2 linked regions of the Homo sapiens genome follow. The protein of the gene in region 2 purifies or fractionates together with the protein of the main gene of each other region. This does not show direct contact. Each region holds a gene or a part of one and is shown on either strand. Other genes may lie near its edges.

Region 1 (3,500 bases), on a different chromosome or scaffold from region 2:
GCGGGACCAGGAGCAGAGCGTCATCTACGGCTCCATCGACTTCGGCAAGACCGTGGTGTCACACCCGCGGTACCTGGAGCTGCTGGAGCGCACGAGTCGGCCCCTCAAGATCCTGCGGCACCAGGTGCTCAACGACCGTGACGAGGAGGTGGAGCTCTGCTCCTCGGTCGAGTGCAAGGGCATCATTGGCAACGACGGGCGCCACTACATCCTCGACCTGCTGCGCACCTTCCCCCCGGACCTCAACTTCCTGCCCGTGCCTGGCGAGGAGCTGCCTGAGGAATGCGCCCGCGCCGGCTTCCCCCGCGCCCACCGGCACAAGCTCTGCTGCCTGCGCCAGGAGCTGGTGGACGCCTTCGTGGAGCACAGGTGAGGGGCGGCCCTGCCGGACCAGGGCCGGGGCCAGCTGCAGGGAGTGCGGGCGCCCTGGGTGGATCCGGGGTTGGGTCCTTGAAGGGAGAAGCGCTGGAGAGTGAAGAAGGGCTCCGTCTAGCCACAGTCATTGGAGACCCGTCCCCACCTGCCCTGCTGTCAGGCTCCCGAGCGCAGAAACCCGGGCTGCAGACTCGCGAGCAGCCAGGCGGGTAATGTGGCTGTGGCGGACACTGTTCTCTTAAGGAGCACTTGGAAGTCTGGGTGGCTGTGACTGTCCCCGTGCTGGGGCGGGCAGGTGGGGCACCGGGGGTCCCCGCCGCTGGTGTTTAGTGCTTAGGAAATGGGGAAATGGCCATGTCAGAGGTCCCACAGCATGAGTAACTCTCAAATGCCAGTGGCTTCCTGTCACTGTTGAGAGCCCTGACCTGGATGGGGAGCTCCTCTTTTCCCATACCCTCCAGAACGCAGCTGCCTTTTTTTTTTTTTTTCTGAGACGGAGTTTCACTCTTGTCGCCTAGGCTGGAGTGCAATGGCACGATCCCGGCTCACCGCAACCTCTGCCTCCCGGGTTCAAGTGATTCTCCTGTCTGAGCCTCCCGAATAGCTGGTATTACAGGCGTGCACCACCACGCCCAGCTAATTTTTTGTATTTTTAGTAGAGACGGGGTTTCTCCATGGTGGTCAGGCTGGTCTCGAACTCCCAACCTCAAGTGATCTGCCTGCCTCGTCCTCAAAGTGCTGGGATTACAGGCGTGAGCCACCACGCCCGGCCGCCTTTTTCTTCCTGTCTTGGGAGATCTTGGTTTTTCTGCGTTGACTCATGCACACCGGCCAGGAGGTGCCCTATGCCTGCGGGGTGTGGAGCCCCAGCTGCCGGGAGCCGTGGGCCAGCAGAGCTCCTCTCCCCGATGTCCAGCTCCTGCTCTGCCCTGTTTCCTCTGCTCCAGGTACCTCCTCTTTATGAAGCTGGCCGCCTTGCAGCTGATGCAGCAGAACGCCAGCCAGCTGGAGACCCCCTCCTCCCTGGAAAATGGTGGTCCTTCCTCCTTGGAGTCCAAGTCTGAGGATCCTCCAGGACAGGAGGCGGGAAGTGAGGAGGAGGGTAGCAGCGCCAGCGGCCTGGCCAAGGTGAAGGAGCTGGCAGAGACCATCGCCGCAGACGACGGCACAGGTGGGGCTGCTGCAGATGGCCGGGAGAGAGCCCGGGCTGGCCCTGCCAGGGTGGCTTATGACCCCCACCTGGGAGAGGCTGGCAGACATCTCTGCAAGGAGCTAGGGGGCGAGGCTTGGCGCAGCCCAGCTCCACCGGTGGCAGAGGGGACCCGTGTCTCATGGAGCCATGTCTCCACAGCAGACCCTCGGAGCCGGGAGGTGATCCGCAACGCGTGCAAGGCGGTCGGCTCCATCAGCAGCACCGCCTTCGACATTCGCTTCAATCCTGACATCTTCTCACCAGGCAGGTGGTGGGGGCCGGCCAGCGCAGGAGCCCTCCAGGGCCAGAGCTTCGCTGGGGGGCCTGGGCCCTTGGGGCTGGTGGGTTTGTCCCCCATCTGAGCGCTTCCCCCGCCAGCGCCAGGCGGCATTTGTCTTGCCACTGCCTGGCTCAGCCTCTCTGCTCTCCCTCCTCCAGGGGTTCGTTTCCCTGAGTCCTGCCAGGATGAAGTTCGGGACCAGAAGCAGCTGCTGAAGGACGCGGCTGCCTTCCTGCTCTCCTGCCAGATCCCTGGCTTGGTGAGGGAGGGGCTGCGGGGCTGGGTGGGGCTTGTGTGGAGGGTGCTGGTCCCTCATCTGTCTCCGACTTGGAGGCCCATGAACACAGGCTCGCAGGAGTGACTTTTTCAGCTTTCCCTGAGTGGGCATCCCCGTTTGACAGATGGGGAGCCTGACCCCCAGAGGTCAAGGGCACAGGCCCTGCTGAGCCCACCGTGTGGGCTGGCAGCTGGTAATCCAGTCTTCTGAGCCCTGGATGGTGGCATGGCTGGGGGACGGGGCCAGAGCTCAGTGGGGGCTGCCCATCCTCCTCCTCCTCCCGCAGGCTCTGTGTCTGGTTCCAGGATGCTGGGTGCTCCCCCAACACCGTGGCCTCCAAGCCTCAGGACACGGGGCTGGGGGTCAAGTAGTGCCCCCAAGCGGGCACCTCTGCTTCTCCCACATGGTTAGAGGGGGCCTGTACCACCACCGGGCTCTTGGTTCTTGGCCTGCGCTCCTGCCAGAGGCTGGGCACATTCTGACATCCTGACTGGGAGCTGGAGCCTTCGGGGTCCTTCTCCAGGGCCTCCCAGGATAGCTGTGCTCCCCCAGAAGGACTCAGTTGGGTGGAGGCAGAGGAGCTGGGTGGGGGCCTGAGCTGCTGCAGCCCGCAGGTGAAGGACTGCATGGAGCACGCGGTCCTGCCCGTGGACGGGGCAACGCTGGCAGAGGTGATGCGCCAGCGGGGCATCAACATGCGCTACCTGGGCAAGGTGCTGGAGCTGGTGCTGCGGAGCCCGGCCCGCCACCAGCTGGACCACGTCTTTGTGAGTGCTGCCCGGGGTGGGGCGGAACGGGAGCTGTGGGACTGGGATGGAGGCCGGGGGCCTGACCAAGACCTCCCTTCTGAATCCTTCCAGAAAATCGGCATTGGAGAACTCATCACCCGCTCGGCCAAGCACATCTTCAAGACGTACTTACAGGTGCCACCCGTCCGCTCTGCGGCTGGCCATGGCCTCCCAGGGTGGTGTGGGGCGTCGGGAAAGAGCCTGAGGTGGGGCTGAGGGCCCTCATGACTCGGATCCAACCTGCCTCGCAGGGAGTCGAGCTCTCCGGCCTCTCAGCCGCCATCAGCCACTTCCTGAACTGCTTCCTGAGCTCCTACCCAAACCCCGTGGCCCACCTGCCCGCCGACGAGCTGGTCTCCAAGAAGCGGAATAAGAGGAGGAAAAACCGGCCCCCGGGGGCTGCAGATAACACAGCCTGGGCTGTCATGACCCCCCAGGAGCTCTGGAAGAACATCTGCCAGGAGGCCAAGAACTACTTTGACTTCGACCTCGAGTGGTGCGTGCGGGGCAGGGGCGGTGGGGTGGGTGGGATTGGGCAGATGAGGCGGCCACCACCTGCTCCCAGATGGCGTCTAAGGCCTGTGGTCA
Region 2 (3,368 bases):
CGCACGGCGCCGGTCTACCTCGCTGCGGTTATTGAGTACCTGACGGCCAAGGTCCTGGAGCTGGCGGGCAACGAGGCCCAGAACAGCGGAGAGCGGAACATCACTCCCCTGCTGCTGGACATGGTGGTTCACAACGACAGGCTACTGAGCACCCTTTTCAACACGACCACCATCTCTCAAGTGGCCCCTGGCGAGGACTAGCTTCTGACACCCGGCCCCTGGGACCTGACAGGTCCACTCGTCCACCCACCCGGCCCCAAATCCCCCGGCCTGAACCCCCGGCCTTAAACACCCTCCCCCCACAACCCAGGCCCCAAAGTCTTGGGCCTTCATTAATTCTGTCAATAAAATGTTTCAAGGAAGCCATCTGCCCGCTTCAGTCACTTTGCCTTGGGGTGGGGGTGGGGGGGCGGTGAGATGGGTTGGGGGGTTGTGAGACCTCCACAGCTGGAGGGATGGAGAGGTGGTGGGGGTCTGGGGTTGGGTGGGAGCCAGGGATGGCACAGAGGAGCCGTCTCTCCGGGTGACAGTGCAGGGGAGTGGCCCTGGGTGGGAAGGGGACACCCCCGCTGGTTCTGAGCAAGTCAGGGCCTGCCCGGGAAAGTCCTCAGCATGATGGTGTTCGTTGGGGCGGGTGGGCCTCAAGACCATGACTGCAGTGTTGCGACAGGACGGACTTCTAAGGCAACCGGGGTGGGGACGGAGAGGTGGACCCGGTGCTTGGCAAGGGGCCCTGGACCGGAAGACGGAGGACTGAGTAGTCGGGGCGGGGGGGGGGGGGGGGGACAACAGTCCAGAAATGCGCAGACATGGAATTAGGGTCACGAGTTTCCTTTGGGTCATGTTCAGATGGAGAGGCTGTGGGATGCCTTTAGCAACCTAGACCACTTGCATTGCAGCCGAGCTAGCAGCAGCTGGTGCCCCGCCAGGCCCCGCGTACCTTCCCAGGGTCTTGGATCCGCATCCCCGAGACCCTCGATTTGCATACGCCGCTCACAGCCCGGCCAGGCCCCGCCTCCGATCCCGCTCTTTGCACCTCACCAGGGCAAGGGGCAGGCTCGGGCTGGGGAGCCGGCGCGGGCACGGCGGCAGCCCGCCGAGGGGGACGCAGGGCACGTCGCCCCGCCCCGGCCCGCCCGCCAGCTGCGGCGGCGCGTCGGGAAGTGCTTGGGGCGGCGAGCATGGCGGCAGCGGCTGCAGGCCTGGGCGGCGGCGGCGCCGGCCCGGGACCCGAGGCCGGGGACTTCCTGGCCCGCTACCGGCTGGTATCGAACAAGCTGAAGAAGCGGTTCCTGCGGAAGCCGAACGTGGCGGAGGCCGGCGAGCAGTTCGGACAGCTGGGCCGGGAGCTGCGCGCCCAGGAGTGTCTGCCCTACGCGGCCTGGTGCCAGCTGGCGGTGGCGCGCTGCCAGCAGGCGCTCTTCCACGGGCCCGGGGAGGCGCTGGCCCTCACCGAGGCCGCCCGCCTCTTCCTGCGGCAGGAGCGCGACGCGCGCCAGCGCCTGGTCTGCCCCGCCGCCTACGGGGAGCCGCTGCAGGCCGCCGCCAGCGCCCTGGGCGCCGCGGTGCGTCTGCACCTCGAGCTGGGCCAGCCGGCCGCCGCCGCCGCCCTCTGCCTCGAGCTGGCCGCCGCCCTGCGCGACCTGGGCCAGCCGGCCGCCGCCGCCGGTCACTTCCAGCGCGCCGCCCAGCTCCAGCTGCCCCAGCTGCCCCTGGCCGCGCTGCAGGCGCTTGGCGAGGCCGCCTCCTGCCAGCTGCTGGCGCGCGACTACACCGGCGCCCTGGCGGTCTTCACGCGCATGCAGCGCCTGGCGCGGGAGCACGGCAGCCACCCGGTGCAGTCACTGCCGCCGCCCCCGCCGCCGGCACCCCAGCCCGGGCCCGGGGCGACGCCCGCCCTACCGGCCGCGCTGCTTCCTCCGAACTCCGGCTCGGCGGCGCCCTCTCCCGCCGCCCTGGGCGCCTTCTCGGACGTGCTGGTCCGCTGCGAGGTGTCCCGCGTGCTGCTGCTGCTCCTCCTGCAACCACCGCCCGCCAAGCTGCTGCCGGAGCACGCCCAGACCCTGGAGAAGTACTCCTGGGAGGCTTTTGACAGCCACGGGCAGGAGAGCAGCGGCCAGCTTCCCGAGGAGCTCTTTCTGCTGCTCCAGTCTTTGGTCATGGCTACCCACGAAAAGGACACGGAAGCCATCAAGTCGCTGCAGGTGGAGATGTGGCCACTGTTGACTGCTGAGCAGAACCACCTCCTTCACCTCGTTCTGCAAGAAACCATCTCCCCCTCAGGACAGGGAGTCTGATCCATCCCATTCACCCAGTGACTTCTTTTTGCCCAGGCCGGGACTTTTTGCATCAGTCACGTTAACCAGATGACTTTGCCTGTTACCAAACCTCATGCATCCACGTTTGCGTCTGGGGAGGAATAAAAAGACATCGTTCCCGCTTCTGCGTTTTGTTATTCCTACTGCCGCCATAGGAATTATTTCGTTGGCTGAACGTTACCAGCACCCCGAGAACACATTTTGATAGAATCAGAGTAGAGGACATGGCTGTCTTCTAAAAAGCCACGACATGAAAATGACAATCCCTTTCGTCTCCTTCCTCCGCTGCTTCCACCCAACGCAGCCTCCTGCCTCCGCCTTTGTTTCATAGTGAGGATTTTATTTTGCACGGCGCCCTCCCTCTAAATACCTACCCTAGATGATTTCATCCTGCCCCTCACTTCTTAACATATTCCTGTGTCTTTGTAATGGCCAAATTTCTCCTTCCACTCGTCCGCACGGTACGTCTTCATGGGAGTCATTTTATTCCTTACAGCTTCCTTGTAACCACAGCCCTAAATCCATGATAAAGCTACTCTTGTACTCCTCATGTGTGGTTTTGGTGTCCGTCGTCTATAAAATGTGACTCTCTTACCTACTTGTCAGGAGGCCAGCAGCAGAACCAGATAGCTGTTTGGGCTCCAGGATGTATTCGTTCCTTTGAAATTTGCGCTATGCCTCCTATGTGGGCAACGAACCTGCAGAGATCATCTATGATGTGCTCCGTACTCGGGTGACTGCAATGCAGATACATCCAGTGCAGCGGGTCTGGTGCCGATGCATCGATTTGCATTGGAATTCACGGTTCTGGTTCCATTCGCAGAGGTATATGCAGTCTGGATCACAACAGCTTTTATTTGTAATAGGGATTTTTTTTTTTTTTTTCCCCCCCCGAGATGGAGTCTCACTCTGTCGCCCAGGCAGGAGCGCAGTGGCGTGATCTCGGCTCACTGCAACCTCCGCCTCCTGGGTTCAAGCGATTCTCCTACCTCAACCTCCAGGGTGCCTGGGATTACAGGCGTGCACCACCACGCTGGGCTAATTTTTGTA

The links. Proteins that work in one complex are often made in the same cells at the same time.
Region 1: the proteins of F8A2 (region 2) and CLUH purify together in Homo sapiens (affinity purification with mass spectrometry, with the first as the bait; one large-scale study listed by BioGRID). This does not show direct contact.

The regions. Positions count from the first base shown.
Region 1 is NC_000017.11:2,694,765-2,698,264, reverse strand, and holds part of CLUH (clustered mitochondria protein homolog), read left to right. Parts: coding exon 1-369; intron 370-1,322; coding exon 1,323-1,546; intron 1,547-1,726; coding exon 1,727-1,831; intron 1,832-2,005; coding exon 2,006-2,106; intron 2,107-2,738; coding exon 2,739-2,891; intron 2,892-2,984; coding exon 2,985-3,047; intron 3,048-3,163; coding exon 3,164-3,408; intron 3,409-3,500. UniProt on the Homo sapiens protein: mRNA-binding protein involved in proper cytoplasmic distribution of mitochondria.
Region 2 is NC_000023.11:155,380,934-155,384,301, forward strand, and holds F8A2 (40-kDa huntingtin-associated protein), read left to right. Parts: upstream 1-1,161; 5' UTR 1,162-1,181; coding exon 1,182-2,297; 3' UTR 2,298-2,868; downstream 2,869-3,368. Other genes in the region: H2AB2 (histone H2A-Bbd type 2/3), read left to right, coding at 1-201.